Linked DNA regions of Homo sapiens. The protein of the gene in region 2 purifies or fractionates together with the protein of the main gene of each other region. This does not show direct contact. Each region holds a gene or a part of one and is shown on either strand. Other genes may lie near its edges. The genes, in order: SUPT5H and CT45A5.

Region 1 (10,427 bases), on a different chromosome or scaffold from region 2:
GCTGAGCCAGGTACCCAACGCACAGGGTCCTGCCATGCCCACCTCACCTTTGAGCCCCCAGCCAGCACCAGGTGGCGGGTCTTGCAGACAAACATGCCCCCGTTCTCCACCAGTTTCTTGCAATGTAGGAAGGCGAAGCTTCGGAAGAGATGGCGAATCTCCCCTTCTCGGCCCTAGCCGGGGAGAGAAGGGTCACTCTCTTGACCATGTCCCCCTCACCCCCAACCAACCAAATTCTTTCAGATGCAGCTCAAAAGCAGGAACTTGTACTCACTGAGTGGGGGCCATCAATGACCTTAACGATGTCTTTCACATGGATGTTGTTCTGCTCTGAGTCCAAGGCCACAGCAAAGCGGTTGTCCTTCTTCCGGGTCACAGCCTGATGTCTGACAGTCACCACCTTCCCGTACATGTTCAGCACCTACAGAGGGAGAGCAGGGAGGCTGTGGGGGTGAGAATGGGAAGGGGAGACACGGGGCAGGGGTTCCCTAAAGTGGGATAATCCTTCCTTGTGGGAGACAGTCCCAAGCTCCACAAGGCATCTCAATTCCCTGGCTGCGGGGCAGGCAGGCAGAGTGCCACCCTTTAGGTACTGGGTCAACCAAAAATGTTCCCAGTCATTCTAAAACACCCTTTGGAAGGAGACTCCACCCCCGATTGGGCAACAGGGACCTGAGAGATGGAAGAAGGGGCTGATAGCAACATTGTTCATCCATCATTCTGTGTCAGGCCCCGTAAGATTTCACTGAAGCCTCAAAACTTCCTCTGAGGTGGATTCTGTCATGATTTCCATCTTACAGAGGGAAACTCAGGCTCAGAGAGGGTGAGTCACTAGCCCAGGGTCAGACAGCACAGGAGCAACAAAGCCAAGATGTGGATGTGGAGTCCAGGATCCTAAGTACTGTGCTCCATGACTCCCACATCCATGAGGAAGGAGCAAAGGCAGGAGGGCACATGTGGCACTCCATCCTTGAGCGAGCAACAGCCACCAGGGTACAGATCTAACCTCAGGGAATCATTCACTATGAACAAAGTAGACGCTGCTCTCGTTTCCATTTTATAGGGTGTGAAAACAGGCAAGGGGAGGGATCAATGACTTGCCATGTGCCCACTATCAGCCATTCAGATGTAAGTGACAGAGCCAGATCTGCAACCCAGAGCAGTCTGGGGGCTCTGCCACCTCCCAGGATGAGGGGTTGAGGGACAGGAAGCCTCCTAAAAGCAAGTCCCCGCCACAGAGCACAACACACACACCTGGAAGGTCTCCCGTTCTAGTCGCACGATGACACCCACAGTCTGGGGATCCAGCTGCACCAGCTCGCCCCATTCATGCTGGCCCCCAACATCCACACCTGATGCTGTCTCTGAGCAGAGCTGCAGGTCCCGGGGGAGCACCTTCAGCTGCCAGGGATGGTGAAAGGGGTGAGGCCCAGTCCAGGTGGCTCGCCTACCTGGGTCTCCTCTTGGCACGTGCACCCTTCCCCGACCCTTCTATCCACCTACCTCATGCATGGTGAGGTCAGAGAACAGGATAACGAAATTCTCCTCCACCCGCACAATGAGGCCTGTGTCGCCCTCGAATCGGCCAGCAATCACCTTCACGTGGTCCCCCATCTTGAAGTATTTTCTAAGTTCCTGGGCTGGGAACTCCAACATGTCCTGGGGGATTGGGTGTGGGGACAACAAACAGGTGAAGGGAGACCACCACAACCTGCCTGCCCCTCCTGTCTTCAGAATCTACGCATGTTCTCAAAAACCCCACTTCAGGCTCTTACCACCCACCCCAGACTACCTTAGTCCACCTGGACGACCCCTCAGACTGCCCCAGAAACAGCTGACCCCAGACACAGGACACCAACCTGGACAACCTTTACCCCAGCCCGCCCTCAAGACACACGATGCCTACCTATACCCACACAGAGAGCCTGCCCCTCAGACACAGGACCCCCGACTGGACAGCTCCTCAGCCCCACCCGGAGACAGCCTCACCCCACACATCACACTGGGCCTGCACAACCCCTCAGACATACACCAGACACAGACAAACACACACCCCGCTCTAAGCAAACAAAGTCAAGCCTCAGATTACTCCTTGGTTAATCACACTCTCAACCCAGTACTACCCAGATATCTTGCTTTTCAGAAACAAAAGATAGACCAAGTCACTCTCCAGAGACAGACACCACCAGGCAGGCCTGCTGCCCACCGACCCTGAGCTGCACTCAGACAGAGCCTCTCAGGCACCTGAGAATGCTAGAAGGGCCTCAACTTACCCTCCTGGAAACCAGGTGTCACCAGGCACACCACCGCCTCGACAGCCACATACAGTCAGATGTGCCTGAACACTCCAACCCCTGCCCGAGAACACCGGGCACCCACCTTGAGGTCCTCATGCTTGGGCATGATGGTGATCTTGTTGCCATCCACGCTGAGGATCTTGCCCTGCAGGTTGATGAGCTCACCCTCACAGACCTCCACGTTGTCCCCAGGTTGGAAGTTGTGCTCCCGCTCCTTCCCTGCAGGGGCAGTCGTAGGGCTGACTCGGGGGTTGCCACCATGGGCCGCCCCTGCTCCTTGGCCCAGGTTATAGAGGGGGATCAAATACCTGTGCTCTCAGTCACCACCTCCAGGTCAATGCCCTCTGGCTGGTCCTCAAACTTTTCCAGCTCAGAGAGTGTTGGCTTCACACCCTCCGTGATCTAAGCCCCCAGCGGTGAGGGGAAGAGAAGGAAATGGACCGAGGTCAGTGCAACAGCCCAGCTGAGTGGGCTGAGTGGGTCCTAGGGGAATAATTCTCCTAGGGAACACTCCTAACTTGAGGAGTGGGACAGAACCAGATAACCCACAGCCCAGGGCATCACCTGCAGGAGAACACTCACACCACCCCCATTACCAACACCCCTCTGGGACCCTCACCACAGCAGACATGGCGAAGCTCTTGAACAGAAAGCCCTTCCGGCTGTAACGGTTCCCCTCAAAGATGAGGAAGTCACCATCAGAGGCAACATCACCCCCCAGGGACCTGGAATTTGATGGGGGAGAGAAGATTAGAAGGGAGAGTCAAGAAGAAAATCTTGCTGTACCTCAGTCTTCTCAGCTGGCAACAGAAGGAGAGGACCACAGGCAGACTGACCCATCCCATCCCAGCACACACCCTCTTGGCAGCAGTGACTTCTCACAAACCCCAAAGGCCCGCCTCCCACCTCCCTGCACTCCTCCACCCATTCCCTGATTTATCTTTGAGCACCGATCACCATCTGACAATCTAGTGTTTGACCTGTCCCCCTAACTAGCATGTCAGCTCCAGAAGGTCAGGGATGTAACATTCACTAAATTTCACCAAGAATAGTGCCCAGTACACAGAAAGTATGCAGTAAACATTAGCTGAACAAAATAACAGTTTCAGACAATGATACCAGTGAATATTCGCAGAGCGCTCAGCCTGGCCTGCACACTCATGACCTCACAGGCTCTTCCCCAAATCTGTGGCATCAGTAACTGCTCATCATTTCCAGGTGAGGGAATGCAGGCTCAGGAAGGTCACATCACATGCCCAAGGGTGCCAAGCCACAGTCTTGACAGGATTCAAAAGCAGGCAGGTGGGACTCCCAAGCCTGCAGCTCCCGGCCCCAAATGTGGAGTGGCGGCCGCTTAGTGCCTGTTCCGAGTCTCCGGGGTGGGGAAGGAGCCTCCTTCATGGAGGAGCAGGTCAAGTTCCTCCTGCGCTCATGCAATCGCCTTCTCCCATGGTGAATCTGGGAGAGGGGCCAGCATGCTCTGCTGGGCATGCTGGGGTACTTGGTCAGCTGGCTTGCTGGGGGGTAAGGGAGCACTAGGGTTTGTTCTTTGCAAAGAGAGGTTCAGGTGAGTCGAAACCAGTGGTATAAATGGGTCCGAACTCAGGCAGGTGAAGTATTAGCAAGGCCCTTGGGTGCAGACTCAAAGGTGCATTCCACAGCTCTTCCTTTATCTGAAGGAAAACCTGACTGGCTGAATCACACACAATTAGTTCTAGAACAGGACCAGAGGGAAGAGTGTCACTGGCACCTCTCGTTTCTCCATGTCCTCCTCTCCTGCCCTCCCTGCCGGAGCCCCCAGTTGGCCCTGGGATGTTGAAATTCCTGGGCTGCTCCAATTCTCTACCCAGCTAGGGAGTCTGGGGGGCATCCTGAGGGAAAGGCACTCCATACCCCCCCATCTCAAGTGGGCATAAGCAGATCAGGAAAGGAGACTTTCTAAAGCCTGACATAGTCCATGAATCCCATTTCAATATATCACACCATGGATCACACTTACTACGTGCCAAGGGCATTCTGAGTACATATGCATACTAATTTATTTAATTCTCACTATAATCTATAATCTGAGGAAGCAGAGGTTGTTTTCTTTTTTTTTGAGACGGAGTCTCGCTCTGTCACCCAGGCTGGAGTGCAGTGGCACGATCTCGGCTCACTGCAATTTCTGCCTCGTGGGTTTAAGCGATTCTCCTGCCTCAGCCTCCCAAGTAGCTTGGATTACAGGAGCTGACCACAACCCTTGGCTAATTTTTGTATTTTTAGTAGAGACAAGGTTTCACCATGTTGGCCAGGCTGGTCTTGAACTCCTGACCTCAAGTGATCCGCCCGCCTCGGCCTCCCAAAGCGCTGGGATTATAGGTGTGAGCCATCACGCCCAGCCTCATCAATCTTTTTAAATATTTTTTTAACTTTTTTCTTTTTATTATTATTATTATTTTAAAAGATGGGATCTCATTATGTTGCCCAGGCTGGTCTCGAACTCCTTGCCTCAAGCAAGCCTCCTGCCTTAGCCTTCCAAAGTGCTCCCTCCCGCTGCGCCCAGCCTCATCAATCTTTATAGCAGAAGAAACTGAGGCACAGGGATGTGAAGTGACTTGCCTGAGGCTATACTGCCAAGCTAACCAATTCACAGGCTAAACCTGTGGCGGGGCCACCCCTGGGGAGGAACCTGCAAAAGGCACATTCTACACACCGGCCCTGGGGACCCAGCCCAGCCAGTCCCCAAGGACACGCACCTGATCTTCTCAGCATCAAACAGCCTCTGTGGAGGCCGCTTAAACTTCTTCCTTTTGGCAAACCAGTCTTTCTATGGAGGAAAGGGGCATGGGTGGGAAGGGTGAGGGAGGGGGCTTGGCCACCAGTGGGATCGAGCACACTCCCTCCCCCCCAGGCCACAGATTCCCCTGAGTACCAAGCTCATGCGGGCCTTGATGCGATCGTAGTCGATGCGTGGGATCATCTTCAGGGAGATGGTGTTCTGGCTGGGCTCCACGTAGTCCACCTGAGCAGGGCGAGCAGAAGGTCAGCAGGGCCCCACTCTCCTCCCTGACCCCAGACACAAGAAGGGTCAGGAGATGCTAGGAAGGAGAAGGGACGCAGGATGGTGGGGAAGAAACCAGGCTGCTGACCACTCCCAAAAGTCCCACGCTAGCTTGTCTGTCCCCTCAACTCTGGCACTGAGTAGCCACTGCCTGCTTGGTATCTCCACCTGGATGTCTAAAGGTCCCTCAAATCCAGGACGACCGCAGCCAAACCGCTGATTCCCCCAAACCTGCCGCCTCCCACTCCATTCTTCCCTCTGCTCAGGCACACAACCTGGGAGCCACTCTTGACTCCTTTGTTTCTCTTACACCCACACCCGACCCGTTGGCAAATTCCATCAGCTCTGCCTTCAAAATACCTGACCTCTTCCCCTCCTCCACTGCAGTCTCAGCATTCCAAATCCAAAAACCCAAAATGCTCAAAAATAGGAAACCCTGTGAGCACCAACATGATGCTCGAAGGAAATGCTCACTCTTGGATTTTCAGATTTGGGATGCTCAACCGGTAAGTATAATGCAAATATTCCAAAAGCTGAAAAAATCTGAAATCTGAAAAACACCTGTGGTCTCAAGAATTCAGGTTAGAGACACTCAACGTGTATTAGGGTCTTGGTCCTATCCCACCAGCACTGCCATCTGGGTGGGATGTGCTACAGCAGCAGCCTCCTCCCTGGTCTCCACGCTCTTGCCCATGGCCCCCTCCAGGCTATTCCCGGGTTTCTCAGCCTTGGCACTATTGACTTTTTGGGCCAGGTAATTTTTTGTTGTGGGCAGCCATCCTGTGCATTGGAGGATGTGTGTGTCTAGCATTTCTGGCTTTAACCTGCTAGATGCCATAATCGTCAACCCCCTCCCCAGCTGACATAACCAAAAATGTCTCCAGACGTTACCAAATGTCCCCTGGGGAAACATCACCCTGGCTTGAGAACCAGTGGTCTAGTCTCAACACAGTCACCAGAGAAATCTTATTAACATTGAAGTCTGCCTGTGTCCCTTACAGCCCTCCCATCCTACGCCAGTAAACACCAAAGCTCTCCAATGGGCCGCAGGCCCTCGTGAGCTCCCTAACTCATCTCACGCCATCCCTGCTGTAGCCAGTGACTGTGCCATCCTATCTCACAGGCCACTCCTGCTGCCTACAACACTCCTCCCCAAGAGCTCCACATGCCTCACGCCCTCCGATCCTTCAGACCTTTACTCAACACGCCTGGGAATGTGCACAGAAGACAGCCAACCGTTTCCTGTGTGCTCACAAAACCCAGGCTCTGCTTCAACTCATCTGAGTGGGATTCTATTCTCTGCAGCACAAAGAGGGTGGGAAGGACAAAAGGAAAGGAAGGGAGAACAGAATGGAGGGACCCTGACCCCCATGCCACCCCGCCCCGGGCACCTGAGCAATGTCATCCTTGTAGATGCCCCGCTTGAGGCGGACCCAGGACTTTGGTTTCAGGTTGGCCACCTCCTTCACCACTTTGAGCACGTCTGTCATCTCCTTGATGGGCACCATCTGCTGGTTCCAGTAGCCAAGCCGCAGGTTGCCCACCCCCTCAATGGCCTGCTTCACGTGGGTCTGCTTGTAGGCCTCCACGTAGATGTAGCCCTTCACATGCTCTGGTGCCACTACTGACTTGATCTGCAGGGGCTGCAGGGTGAGCCGGTGGAAGGAGGAAACAGTGAGACACAACGGCTAATAACAGAAATGACTGCCACTCATCAGCAGTCCCTCTTCTAGGAATTTATTCCACAGAAACACACTGGCACAATGACATGGACACAAAGGTGTTCCCTGCAGAATTATTTATCACAGCAAACAAACCAGACTAAAAATTTTAAAAATATCCAGAAACAGTAACTAGTTAACTTATGGCTTAATGTACCATGAAATACAATGTTGCAGTTAAAGAATACAAAAACTAGCTGGGTGTGATGGCACATGCCTGTAGTCCCAGCTACTCAGGAGGCTGAGCAGGGAGGACTGCTTGAGCCCGGGAGGTTGAGGCTGCAGTGAGCTGAGATCGCACCACTGCACTCCAGCCTGGGCAACAGAGTGAAACCCTGTCTCTTAAAAATAAAAAATAAAATAAAAATTAGATTAACCTGTATGTACTAATATAGAAAGCTATCCAACATATGTTCTGTGTAAAAAAGCAACTAGAGCCGGGCACGGTGGCTCATGCTTGTAATCCCAGCACTTTGGGAGGCCGAGGCGGGTGGATCACTTGGGGTCAAGAGTTCAAGACCAGCCTGACCAACACGGAGAAACCCTGTCTCTACTAAAAATATCCAAGATTAGCCGGGTGTGGTGGCACATGCCTGTCATCCCAGCTACACGGGAGGCTGAGGCAGAAGAGTCGCTTGAACCCGGGAGGTGGAGGTTGCGGTAAGCTGAGATCGCACCATTGCACTCCAGTCTGGGCAATAAGAGCAAAACTCCGTCTCAAAAAAAAAAAAAAAGCAACTAGAAGAAGAACCAAGAAAGGAGTGCTTACATCAGACAAAATATACTTTAAGACAAAAATTGCTACCAGAGACAACAAAAAACATTTTGTAACAATAAAAAGGTCAATCCATCAGGAAGATAGAATTACAAATGTATATGAAACTAACAGAGCCTCAAAATACATGAAGCAGAAACTAATGAAAATGAAGGAAGAAACTGACAACTCAACAGTAACAATCACTGACTGCAATACCCTGCTTTCAATCATGGATAGAGCTAGACCCAAGATCAACAAGGAAAGAGAACACTTGAGCAACACTGTAAGCCACCTAAACCTAATAGCCAGCTATAGACAGAACATTTCGTCTTCACTTTCCACTTATTAAGCGGAAATGGGAAAAAAGAACACTCCATCTAACAACAGCAGAATGCACTTTCTTCTCAAGGGCATATTAAACTTTCCAGAATAAACCACAGGTTAGGCCATAAAACACGTCTCAGTAAACATAAAAGAACTAAAATCATATAAAGTATATTCTCCATCCATATGTAATGAAGTTAAAAACCAACAGAAAGATACTTAGGAAATTCACAAATACATGGCAACACACTCCTAGATACCAAAACTTATGAGATTTGAAAAAAGCCATGCTTAGAAGTAAATGTATAGCTGTAAATACCAACTAAAAGAAAAAAAAGGCCAGGAGCGGTGGCTCATGCCTGTAATCCCAGCACTTTGGGAGGCCGAGGCAGGAGGATCACTTGAGGTCGGGAGTTCAATACCAGCCTGGCCAACATGGTGAAACCTTGCCTCTACTAAAAATACAAAAATTAAGGCCGGTTGGCCAGGCGCAGTGGGTTCATGCCTGTAATCCCAGCACTTTGGGAGGCTGAGGGGTGGATCATCTGAGGTCAGGAGTTCAAGGTCAGCCTGGCCAACATGGTGAAACCCCATCTCTACTAAAAATACCAAAAAAAAAAAAAAAAAAAAAATTAGCTGGGCATGGTGGTGGGTGCCTGTAATCCCAGCTACTTGGGAGGCTGAGGCAGGAGAATCGCTTGAACCCGGGAGGTGCAGGTTGCGGTGAGCCGAGATCGCATCATTGCACTCCAGCCTGGGCAACGGTGCGAGACTCTGTCTCAAAAAAAAAAAAAAAAAAGAAAATTAAGGCTGGGCACAGTGGCTCACGCCTGTAATCCCAACACTTTGGGAGGCCGAGGTGGGCCGATCACCTGAGGTCAGGAGTTCGAGACCAGCCTGGCCAACATGCTGAAACCCTATCTCTACTAAAAACACAAAAATTAGCCAGGCGTGGTGTCGGGTGCCTGTAATCCCAGCTACTTGGGAGATTGAGACAGGAGAATCAGTTGAGCCTGGGAGGCAGTGGTTGCAGTGGGCCAAGACTGCACCATTACATTCTAGCCTGGGCAAGAAGAGTAAAACTCCATCTCAAAAAAACAAACAAAAAAATGAAGTCTTGATATATGCTACAATATGGATGAGTCTTGAAAACATTAAGTGAAGCAAGTCAGTCACGAAAGGCGACATATTGTATGATTCCCTTTGTATGAACCATTCAGAGTTCCAATAGTCAAATCCACAGAGAAAGAAGGTAGATTCATAGTTACCAGGAGCTGTGAGGAGGGAGGAATGGGGAGTGATGACTAATGGGTATCGGTTTATTTTTGGGATAATGAAAATGTCCTGGAATTAGATGGTGATGATGGTTATGAATACACTACAATATATAAAATCCACCACAGTTTACACTTTAAAAAAATTAAATTTTAGGCTGGGCACAGTGGCTCAGAACTGCCATCCCAGCACTTTGGGAGGCCAAGGCGGGTGGATCACTTGAGCCAGGAGTTCAAGACCAGGCTGGCCAACATGGTGAAACCCCGTCTCTATTAAAAATACAAAAAAATCAGCCGGGCATGGTGGCGGATGCCTATAATCCCAGCTACTCGGGAGGCTGAGGCAGAGGTTGCAGTGAGCCGAGACCACACCATTGCACTCCAGCCTGGGCAACAAGAGTGAAACTCCGTCTCAAAAAAAAATAATAATCAGAGACATAACTCAAATGAAGTAACTAGAATTTTACCCCAGGGTACCATGTAGGAGGATTTGAGCACACTTCTTTTAATTATTATTATTATTATTTTTTTTTTTTTTTTTTTGAGACAGTCTCGCTCTGTTGCCCAGGCTGGAGTGCAGTGGCACGAGCTTGGCTCACTACAACCTCCAACTCCTGGGTTCAAGCAATTCTCCTGTCTCAGCCTCCCAAGTAGCTGGGATTATAGACATGCACCACCACCCCTGGCTAATCTTTTGTATTTTTGGTAGAGACGGAGTTTCACCATGCTGGTGAAGCTGGTCTCGAACTCTTAACCTCAGGTGATCCACACGCCTCAGTCTCCCAAAGTGCTGGGATTACAGGCGTGAGCCACCGCGCCCGGCCTATTATTATTTTCTTTGTAGAAATCAGTTGTCACTATGTCACTATGATGTCCAGGCTGGCCTCGAACTCCTTTTGCCTCAGCCTCCCAAAATACTGGTATTACAGACATTAGCCACCACACCTAGCCAAAAGGTACCTTTTCAACCTCCCTGTTGGGGAATCATACCCCACAAATCCCAATCTCACCCAT
Region 2 (10,489 bases):
ACCAGCCTGGCCGACATGGCGAAACCCCATCTCTACTAAACTTACAAAAATTAGCTGGGTGTGGTGGCTGGTGCTTGTAATCCCGCTACTCGGGAGGCTGCGGCAGAAGAATCACTTGAACCCAGGAGACGGAGATTTCAGTGAGCCGAGATCGCGCCACTGCACTCCAGCCTGGCTGAGAAGAGCGAAACTCCATCTCAAGAAAAAAATGATAGGGATTCACCAATACGGACAAGAAATTAAAAAAAAAAAAAAGATTGTCGGAAATGGAAATCCTAGAAGGTTTTCATGAAGAAGCGAGTGAACAACTGTCAAATGCTGCTGAGAAGTTAATGGCAATGTCAGCCGAAACTGTTAACCTTGACAAGGACAGTTTCTCTGGAGGGGATGAGGCAGGAGCATGAGGAGGACGTGAGGACAGGCTTACTTACTCTTTTCTTTGGACATGGCAGAGCCTGCAATAAGGCTGTCTCCTGCTCCTTGTTTCCTTGCCAACAGGGCCATCCTCTGCCTTTTCTGATACGAAGGACTGTCACATTCCCTGGGACGTTTAAACACAGTTTCAGGATCTACAGCCACCTTCTCTGTTTTATCGGTCATTGTTTCCTGAAAAACATCAATGAATATATTCTATTCATGACAAAAATCTAACAATCACAAAATGGCAAGCAATCTGCATATGTGTATACAACCAAGACTTTGAATCATTAATTTCACTTTTAATCATGAGCCAAGATTTACCAAGTCTCAACAAACACTCTGTTCTCAGGAAAAGAAACCTAATTTTAATGTACACAAAGTAAAACAGAAGAAAGATGGTATAACCAAATCAATCAGAATGCTTGTGGAATAAGCAGCTGTCATCAACCAAAAATAGATAAAAATATTATTACCTATTTGAAGATGTATAAGCCAATCTGTATTAACCCTTATTAGAAAAAATGGATGTATAAACCAATCTGTATTAACCCTTATTATACATTATATTTTAAATTATATATTATATATCATATATATTTAATATATAAGTATTTATGCTTATATATTCAAATAGATGCATAAACCAACGTGTATTAACCCTTATTAGGAACCCTTATTAGAAGATTGATACAAAACTGATAACAACATCTGACAAGGAATTTAGAAGAATGAAAAACTACAAGATCAAGCCAAAAATACAAGCCAAGATCACCCCGAACTTAGACACAAAAATTCCAAACTAAGGGTGAGCAAATAAAATGTACTAGTACTTAAAAAGGACATACATCAGCCATGGTGGAGTATATTGCAGAAAGGCAACACTGATTTAACATTTGAAAATCGACAAATGTAGTGCACCACATTAACAACAACAACAACAACAACAACAAAAACAGGGAAACACCGCATGATCATTTTCATACATGGATCAATGTTTAAAGTCCATTCGTGATAAAAACTATCACCAACTTAGGAAAAAGGGCAACTTTCCTATTCTGGTTAGCATATGTACAAAAAATTTTTAAATGCCATACTTCATAGTGACGTATCAGTATTTTCTCCCTGAGTTTGAAAACAAGACAAAGATGTCCACTATCCATTCAACAATTTACTGGAGGTTCCAAAAAGTGCCATATCATCAGGAAAATACAATAGGTTTAAAATTTGGAAAGAAATAAAACTGTCATTATTCACAGATGACATTGTTCTGTACATAGAAAAATGCAGAAGAATAAAATCATTACAGTTAATAAGCAAATTTAGTCAACTTACTAGATACAATGAAAACCAATGGCATTTCTGTATAATGAATAGCAATTCTGTATAATGAATGGCATTATACAGAATGGCAATTCTGTATAACGAATAATTAGAATATGAGATTTCAAATGTCATTAAAAACAGTTCCAAAAACATCAAATATTTAGGAATAAATCTAATCAAGATGTGCTAGAGTACTTCACAAAAATTATAAAACATCACTCAGAGAAATTCAAGACTGCAGTAAATGGAGAAAAATTTTCTTTCCATGCATTGGAAGACATTTTTTTTTTTTTTTGAGTCGGAGCCTCGCTCTGTCACCCAGGCTGCAGTGGAGTGGCACAGTCTCTGCTCACTGCAACCTCCACTTCCCAGGTTCAAGCAATTCTCCTGCCTCAGCCTCCTGAGTAGCTGCGATTACGGGCGCCTGCCACGACGCTGGATAAAGAAAATGTGGTACATATACACCACGGAATACTATGCAGCCATAAAAAAGAATGAGTTCATGTCCTTTGAAGGGACATGTGTCAGCAAGCTAACACAGGAACAGAAAACCAAACACCACGTGTCCTCACTCATAAGTGGGAGTTGAACAATGAGAACACATGGACGCGGGGAGAAGAACATCACACAGTGGGGCCTGTCAGGGGTTGGGGGGCTAGGGGAGGGATAGCATTAGAGAAATACCTAAGGTAGATGACGGGTCAATGGGTGCAGCAAACAACCATGGCATGTGTCTTCCTATGTAACAAACCTGCACGTTCTGCCCATGTATCCCGGAACTTAAAGTATAATTTTAAGAAAAGGAATATTATCGTAATGGCATTGGGTGAGTCAAAGATGTTTCTTAAAATAATAAAAAGCACTATCCATAAATAATACACTAATTAATAAAATTAAGAGAATCTGTTCATCTACAACACATTATTGAGATCGTGTAAAAGCAAAAAAGATTTATAGAAGATACTAAAATTGTATATGTATTTTTGTATATGTACATATACGCCTGTGTGCCTGTGCGTATAACTCAAATACAGAATATATGGAAACTACAAATCCATTTTTAAAATACAAACATCTCAGTAAAAGCTGGGGGAAAATACCTGAAAAGGAACTTCATAAAAGGCATAGTTAAATGACCAATAAACACATAAAATGGTGCTAAAAAAAAAAAAAAAAGAAAACAATAAATAGCTGGGTGTGGTGGCACTGCAATCCAGTCTGGGTGACAGAGGGAGACCTCATCTCAAAAGACAAACAAAAATCAATAAATAAAAACAATTTCTTAAAAAGGTGCTCGATCTCATTAATCAGCAGAGAAATGCGAGTGTAGACACAAGGAGAGATCACTGCACACCCATCAGAGTGGCTGGAATGAAAGACTAACTGTACTGCGAGTGTTCGAATGTGGCACAGCTGGAACCTTCGAATATTTCTGGACTCCCATTCCCACACAGACACCTGAGGCTGTGGCTGAAAGGTCAGATAGAATCCCAGGAAAGAGCTCCTTCAGAATTGCGATCAACCAACCGAGGAAAAGCACCCCAACCTGGGTCGAGACAGAGTTCCCAAGGTCACGTGGCCTCCTTCATGGCTGACACAGAGCTCCCTGAGTCCCACCATAGGCTTAGAGAATCCAAGGAACATTACCCCACTCCCCGGCGGCACCGGGAGAGAGCACCTACAGATAATAATTTTAAAAACCCAGCACCAAGAGAAAGCATCCAGTAAGCGTCCACAACGGGGATAAGCAGAACCAAAGAAAAGCCAACACATTGTAACTGAGAGCGAGCAACATCCGAGGACAAATGCGCCTCACGGCCGACATCAGTACCCAAGGAAGAGTCCACCAGAGGTTGAGATAAAGCCCCCGACAGTGACCCCACAGGGCTACGATCATGTGTCCGGGGCACAGCCACCCCCACCACGTTCCATGAGCACAGATAGTGACCCCAGGGCAGAGTCCCCCCTCAGGACAGCGACTGAGCGGGAAAGAAACACCGCCGCACCCGAGGCCGACACAGGCAACCAAGGCATGGCCCCCACCCCCCGGGCTCAGGTCATTTCAGCAGGAAAAGTCGCCTTTTCCATCACCGACAGGGAGCCCCCAACAAGAGCCCCCAAGAAAAGCCCCCTGGCCCCACAACATAGCCGAGACGGGGTGCCCAAGGAAAACGCTCCCCCGCGGCTGACACAGGCGCCCATGGCGGTGTCCCCAGAGCTAAGCCACTTCCCCAAGGGAGCCCTCCCACACACCGGACAGAGAACACCACAGAAAAGACTCTTTCTGAGGAAAAAGGACACTTTCCAGGGCGAAATTAAAGCATCCAGGGAAAAACTGCCCACTCACAGTCCTGAAGTCCTGACCTTGCTGGAGGAGAGACGGCGGCACCTCACAAAATGGCAGTGAAGTTGTGGCGCCTCCCCACTGGTGGCACTTTCTAGAAACCTGCCCTCTGGGAGTTGTGGGAAATGTGCCCCCTAGGGCACCTGGGAGTGATGTGCATGGGGAGGCGTCTCACCAGAAGCACCGATCCCGTTTGGCCCAAGGGGGATGGGAGGAAGGGAAGTAGCCAGCCACAGCGTGCCTGCCCCAGCCGAACACTGGGAACCTGTTGGGGGCGCCAGAGTGCTGAGGAGAAGCCTCGTGCCCCAGAGAACCAGGAAGCGCAGCCCTCCCCTTCGCTGACTCTGGCGCCCTCTACAGGCGACCTTCAGTAACAACTGCACAGCAACGTATGCGGAGGAATGCAGAACCTTCTCACCCAGCGGGATGAAATCGCCTGGGTAACATAGTGAGACCCCGGCTCTACAAAGCAACCAACTAATCAAAAAAGAAAGAAAGAAAGAAAGAAACACACAAATTAGCTGGGCCTAGTGGCCTCGCACCTGTGGTCCCAACTACTCGGGAAGTTGAGGTGGGAGGATGGCTTGAACCCGGGAGGTGGAGGTAGCAGTGAGCCACTGCACTCCAGCCCAGGCGGTAGAGGAGACCCCATCTCAGAAAAAAAAAAAAAAAGAAAGAAAGAAGGAAAAGAAAAGAAAAAGAAAAAGAACAACAACAAACTGCAATTTTCATTTGAGGGGGTTGTGTTTTAAAGTCAACCCCGACCCGCCACAGTGGCTCACGCCTGTAATCTCAACACTTTGGGAGGCCGAAGGGGCTGGACCACCTGAGGTCAGGAGTTCGAGACCAGTCTGTCTGACCAACATGGTGAATCCCGTCTCTGCTAAAAATACAGAAAATTACCGGGCGTGGTGGCATGCACCTATAATCCCACCAGCTACTTGGGAGGCTGAGGCTGGAGAATCGCTTGAACCGGGCAGGCAGAATTTGCAGTGAGCTGAGATCATGCCACTGCACTCCAGCCTGGGTAACAGAGTGAGACTCTGTCTAAAAATAAAAATCAATCAATCAATAAATAAAGTCAACCTCTATCTGTTAAAGGTAACCATTATTGTTAATTGATAAGAAAAATGAGGGCCCCAGTGCGGTCGCTCACGTCTGTAATCCCAGCAATTTGGGAGACCAAGAGGGGTGGATTCCTTGAGCCCAGGAGTTCAAGAGCAGCCTGGGCAGCATGGTGAAACCCCATCTTAACACAAAATACAAAAATTAGCTGAGCGTGTAACTGTGGTCCCAGCTGCTCGGGAGGCTTGACACCAGGAGGTTGAGGCTGCATTGACCTTTGTTCGCACCATTGCACTATAGCCTGGGTGACAGAGTAAGACTGTCTACAAAAAAAAAGAAAGAGAGAAAGAAAGAGAGAAAGAAAGAAAGAAAGAGAAAGAAAAAAGAAGGAAGGAAGGAAAGAAAGAACGAAAGAAAGAAAGGAAGGAAGAAAGGAAGGATGGAAGAAAGAAGGGAAGAAAGGAAGAAAGGAAGGATGGAAGAAAGAAGGGAAGAAAGGAAGAAAGAAAGAGAGAAAGAAAGAAAGGATGGAAGGAGGGGAAACCTTATTATATTGCATCTATTAATCATTTTAATCTGGAACTTTGTATATTTTTCCACCTTTTTTATTTTTTTTGAGACAGTCTGGCTCTGTCACCCAGGCTGGAGTGCAGTGGCATGATCTTGGCTCACTGCAACCTCCGCCTCCCAGGTTCAAGCAGTTCTCCTTCCTCAGCCTCCCGAGAAGCTGGGATTACAGGCATGTACCACCATGCCCGGCTGGTATTTGTATTTTTAGCAGAGACGGTGTTTCACAATGTTCTCCAGGCTGGTCTCAAACTCCTGACTTTAAGTGATTCATCTGCCTTGGCCTCCCAAAGTCCTGGGATTACAGGGGAGAGCCACCATGCCCGGCCCATTTTTCTACTTTCACAACTTATTTTAAGTGCAGCAAAATTTACTTGAATTGTCCATAGTGGTAAAAAATATTACAGCGAAATTTTTCGAGTTTTAATGGAACAGGCAGTTTCACTATTGACACAATTATTTGGAAGGGATTACTTCACTGGTTTTGTAATTCAAAAGTTATGTTTGTAAAAAACTTAAAATTAAAATTAAAAAATATAGCCAGGCATGGTGGTGGGCACCTGTACTCCCTGCTACTAGGGCAGCAGAGGCAGGAGAATCACTTGAACCTGAGAGGTGCAAGCTTCAGTGAGCAGAGATCGCGTCACTGCACTCCAAAGGGGCAGAGATCCATTGTCACTGGGGGACAAAGGGAGAGTCCGTCTCAAAATAAATTAATTAATTAAAATTAAAATTAAAAATTATGTTTGTTAAGTACCCTGTTAGAAGAGAGTCATATTCAGTATTACAGCTTCTTAGCCTATTGTGTTAATATTTGCCTGTGCTTCAGAACCTTCATAGAACACATTTTCTTTTGGAATATATTTGATTGATAGGAAAGCTTAAACATTGTTTTCACTTTGATGTAGGAACAGTTGTTTTGTTTGTTTCCTCTAGTGCTATCAAAATAAAATACTCATTTTTTGCATTAAAAAAATCCCACCAGAGCAGTACTCATAGGAGTATTTGATTGAATAACCATGAGACTGGAATCTTGTTGGGGCTTAATTAGAATCCTGCCTACCACACAAGCCACAGGTGGACAGCTGCATACGACAGTCCTGACTGGGACAGCCCTGAAGGACAGTGATGAAGGGAAATCCTCCCAGAGGGAAGAACTTTGAGCAGTGCACCTTCTTGGAGGAGGCATATCCAGACGTGTAAGTATGTATCATGCATAGGCTGTGTCCCACTCATTCGCTGAATTGTCAGGGACTTTGAGAACACACGATTAAAAATGTGCGACAAAGAAGTCTGAGAAAAAAAAAATATGTGGACAGGCCTGTCCAAACGGACATACAATGTGAAGATATTGGGGTCTCATGAGAGTTCTCAGCAAAGGGTATCCTCAGCAGAGCAGAATTTTAATAATCAGATGGATAAGGTACTTATTATCTAGGTATTAATCAGCCTCTTTCCCTAACACGTGTGTCACAATCTTACCGGCTCAACAAACAAAGTGGTCAAACTGGCAGGGTTGGAGATTATGCGCAGTAGCATGGACCTCCACTCACCATGGCAAACCTGGCTACGGTCATTGCTGAGTGAAAAATCTTCCAGGAATGGAGACCAACACTAAGCCCCCAATTTGGCACCAGACTCCAGAATGATCTGCCAGCCACTAGTTGGTATGTGGATTACAATAGATCACTTCTATTATAAAAAGAGAAGTGCTTTCTTCTTACCTGAACAGACATTTAGTCTAGATATGGATTTTCCTTCCCACTTGCAGTGCTTTTGAGAAAACCAATGTTTGTATCTCAGCTTCCAAAATTCTGGAAAGCGCTAGTTCCTCAAGTTCCTAGGGTTATTCATTCTGGAGACTCTAGTATACTCTGCAAGAAAACCTGTAGGCCATCCACCAAAATGCCCAAATGGAGTCACTCTTAAATAACGAGCCCTGCATGTTTCCAGAAACTCTAATTATCAGTGAAAAGTTTACTATGGCAGCGATTTCGCCACCCAGGGCAATTGGAGAATGGCAGATACTAGGGACCATTAACTCTGTGAAAGCTGTAGAAGACTGCAGTCAAGACAGTTACAGAACCAAAAGTGACAGTCTTCTATTTCCGATGTTTGTACAAAGAGGACATACAATTAATAAAGTGGTCGAGGAACAGGTTTCTGCTTTAATACCAAAAACTAACATAGAAACCTGTAAAGGTGTCCAAGTATAGTAATCCTTTTCCTGTGTATTTGGTTAAGATTTAAAACTGAAGCTTTCTTTGTTAGCTTTTTTAAAATTATAGATGCCAGAAGGGTACATGTACAGATTTCTCGCTTGGATATAATTGCACAGTGCCGGGGTTTGGGCTTCTAGTGAACTCATCACCCAAATAGTGAAGAGAGTATCCAATAGGTAGTTTTTCAACCCTCCGACCCGCTCCCTCCCTCCCCTCTACCTCCATTTTGGAGTCCCCAGAGTCAATGGTTTCTACCTTTATTTTCATGTGTACCCATTGTTTAGCTCCCACATATGAATGAGAACACGCAGTATCTCATTTTCTGATTATCAGATTTTGCTTCTGCGTTTCACTTAAAAGTGAAGTTTTCACCGGACACAGTGGCTCACGCCTGTAATCCCAGGATTTGGGAGGCAGAAGCGGGTGGATCACTTGAGGTCAGGAGTTCCAGACGAGGCTGGCCAAAGTGGCGAAACCACATCTCTACCAAAAATACAAAAAATAGCTGGGGCCCTGCGCAGTGGCTCGCACTTGCACTTTGGGAGTCTGAGGTGGGCATATCACTTGAGGTCAGGAGTTTGAGACTAGCCTGGCCAACATGGTGAAACTCTGTCTCTACTAAGAAATACAAACAATTAGCCAGGTGTGATAATGCGTTTCTATAGTCCCAGCTACACAAGGAGGCTGAGGCAAGAGAACTGCTTGAACCCGGGAGGTGGAGGTTGCAGTGAGCCGAGATTGCACCATAAACTTAATCAAATTGTTGTTCCAACTGCAGCTGCTGTACTACAAGTGGTTTTGTTGTGTCAGCAACTGTGACATCCCTCGGAACCTGATATACAATACTGATTAGGTGAATGTTTGGCTTTCTTTCAGTAATTGTCGTAAACAAGAATTTCAATTCAGCTAGAAAGGACAGCAATGTACTATCATTTCCTATTTCAAGCTTATATCAACTCTCTAGGTTTATATCCTAAACGAGTTCTTAGGGAAAATGGCCACCTTTCTCTTAAACCAGATGTGACACCATTCTTTGCAGTGATGACATCATGCTGACTGAAAAGGAGGTAGCAACTAATCCAGACATGGTAGCAACACACTTGCAAGACATTATGTGAGAAATAATTCTCACACAAAATCAGGGGCCTTCTAACTGAGTGAAGCGTTTAACAATCTGGTAGTCTGGCATGTCAAGATGGTGGTTATAAGGTGAACAGCAAGTTCTTACATCTTGCCTTTCTTACTACTAAATAAGGAACATGAAACGAGTTGCATAATAGATGCTTGTTTTAGCATATACCTAAATGTTGTGCAGTACCGTGGACCCATTGACAAGTGACTGAAACCCCGCTAGCATGGACCGGGGCCCAGAAAAAGAGAAGCTTCCCTAATCCTGCACCTGTGATCTCATGTGGAGTTCCCTGAGACCAGTTGACTAGAAAATAAAAAACTTCATGCCTGATTTTCATTTGTTACTTCAGAATATGCAGGCACCACATCTATTAGGTTTGTTACTAATGCAAAAGAAATTGTCCCCGATTCAGCAGCTTAAAATAACACAAATATATAAGCAGTTCTGTAGATCAGAAATCCATGCAGCCTGGATTGGTTTCTCTGCTTAGGATCTCACAAAATCAAAGTTAGGGTATCAACCAGGCTGCTGACTAACTAAGGACTCAGAGAGAACCTGTTTTCAAGCACATTTGGGTTACGGGCAGGTCTAACTTCTTAAAGTTGTGGAACTGAGGTAGCCGTATACTTGCGGTCTTGGCTGAGGCCACTCTAAGCTACCTGAGACCCCTCCATACCTACTTGGGTGCACCCCTCTATCTTCTAAGCAGTAATGGTGCATCATGATTATGGTGGCTGAGATAAAGCTTATTTACGGGTTTGGCAACATGAACTTTCATTTACCAGGTCCATCTCACTACAGCCACTGCTCACTATTCAATCTGACAGCAGCAGAGACCAACACTGAGTCCCCAATATGGCACCATGTCCCAGAGTGGTCAGTCAGCTTCCAGGTAGCACTGTGATTACTTGGGTCTGCTTCCACGATTGAAGGGGTATCACTTTGATCTTCCTCAAATAGACACTTATTCTGCATATGGATTTTCATTCCCACCCATGGAACTTCAAGGAAATCGGTACTGTGGTATGAGGAAAGGCTGTATCCACCGTCGTGGTATTCCACACTGCACCAGTTTTAAACATCAAACTCACTTTACAGGCAATGAAGTATGGGAATGGGCTCATGCTAATGTACTTCACTAGTCTTGTGATGTTCTTCAACATCCTGAAATGGCTGGCTCAATAGAACATTGGAGGACCTTTTAAAGCCTGAGTTGTCATTGCAGCTTTGTGGCAGTGCCTTGTGGGGCTTGGCTGACAATCTAGAAAGTGGCAAAGCTGAATCCTAGCCTCAAGTATATGGAACTATTTCTCCCATAGCCACATTTATGACTTCAAGAATGAAGGAGGCAATATGTGGGCCTTCTCTCACTATTACTCCTGGGTATCTAGTAACAAAATGTTGCTTCTTATGCTC

What was found.
Region 1: the proteins of CT45A5 (region 2) and SUPT5H purify together in Homo sapiens (affinity purification with mass spectrometry; 2 studies listed by BioGRID). This does not show direct contact.

What each region holds. Positions count from the first base shown.
Region 1 is NC_000019.10:39,461,351-39,471,777, reverse strand, and holds part of SUPT5H (transcription elongation factor SPT5), read right to left. Parts: intron 6,981-10,427; coding exon 6,729-6,980; intron 5,299-6,728; coding exon 5,209-5,298; intron 5,104-5,208; coding exon 5,033-5,103; intron 3,557-5,032; exon of another isoform or gene 3,485-3,556; intron 3,023-3,484; coding exon 2,917-3,022; intron 2,700-2,916; coding exon 2,606-2,699; intron 2,517-2,605; coding exon 2,380-2,516; intron 1,660-2,379; coding exon 1,504-1,659; intron 1,402-1,503; coding exon 1,255-1,401; intron 422-1,254; coding exon 275-421; intron 174-274; coding exon 48-173; intron 1-47. UniProt on the Homo sapiens protein: Component of the DRB sensitivity-inducing factor complex (DSIF complex), which regulates mRNA processing and transcription elongation by RNA polymerase II.
Region 2 is NC_000023.11:135,781,130-135,791,618, forward strand, and holds the start of CT45A5 (cancer/testis antigen family 45 member A5), read right to left. Parts: upstream 4,375-10,489; 5' UTR 4,108-4,374; exon of another isoform or gene 4,091-4,107; intron 607-4,090; 5' UTR 601-606; coding exon 432-600; intron 1-431.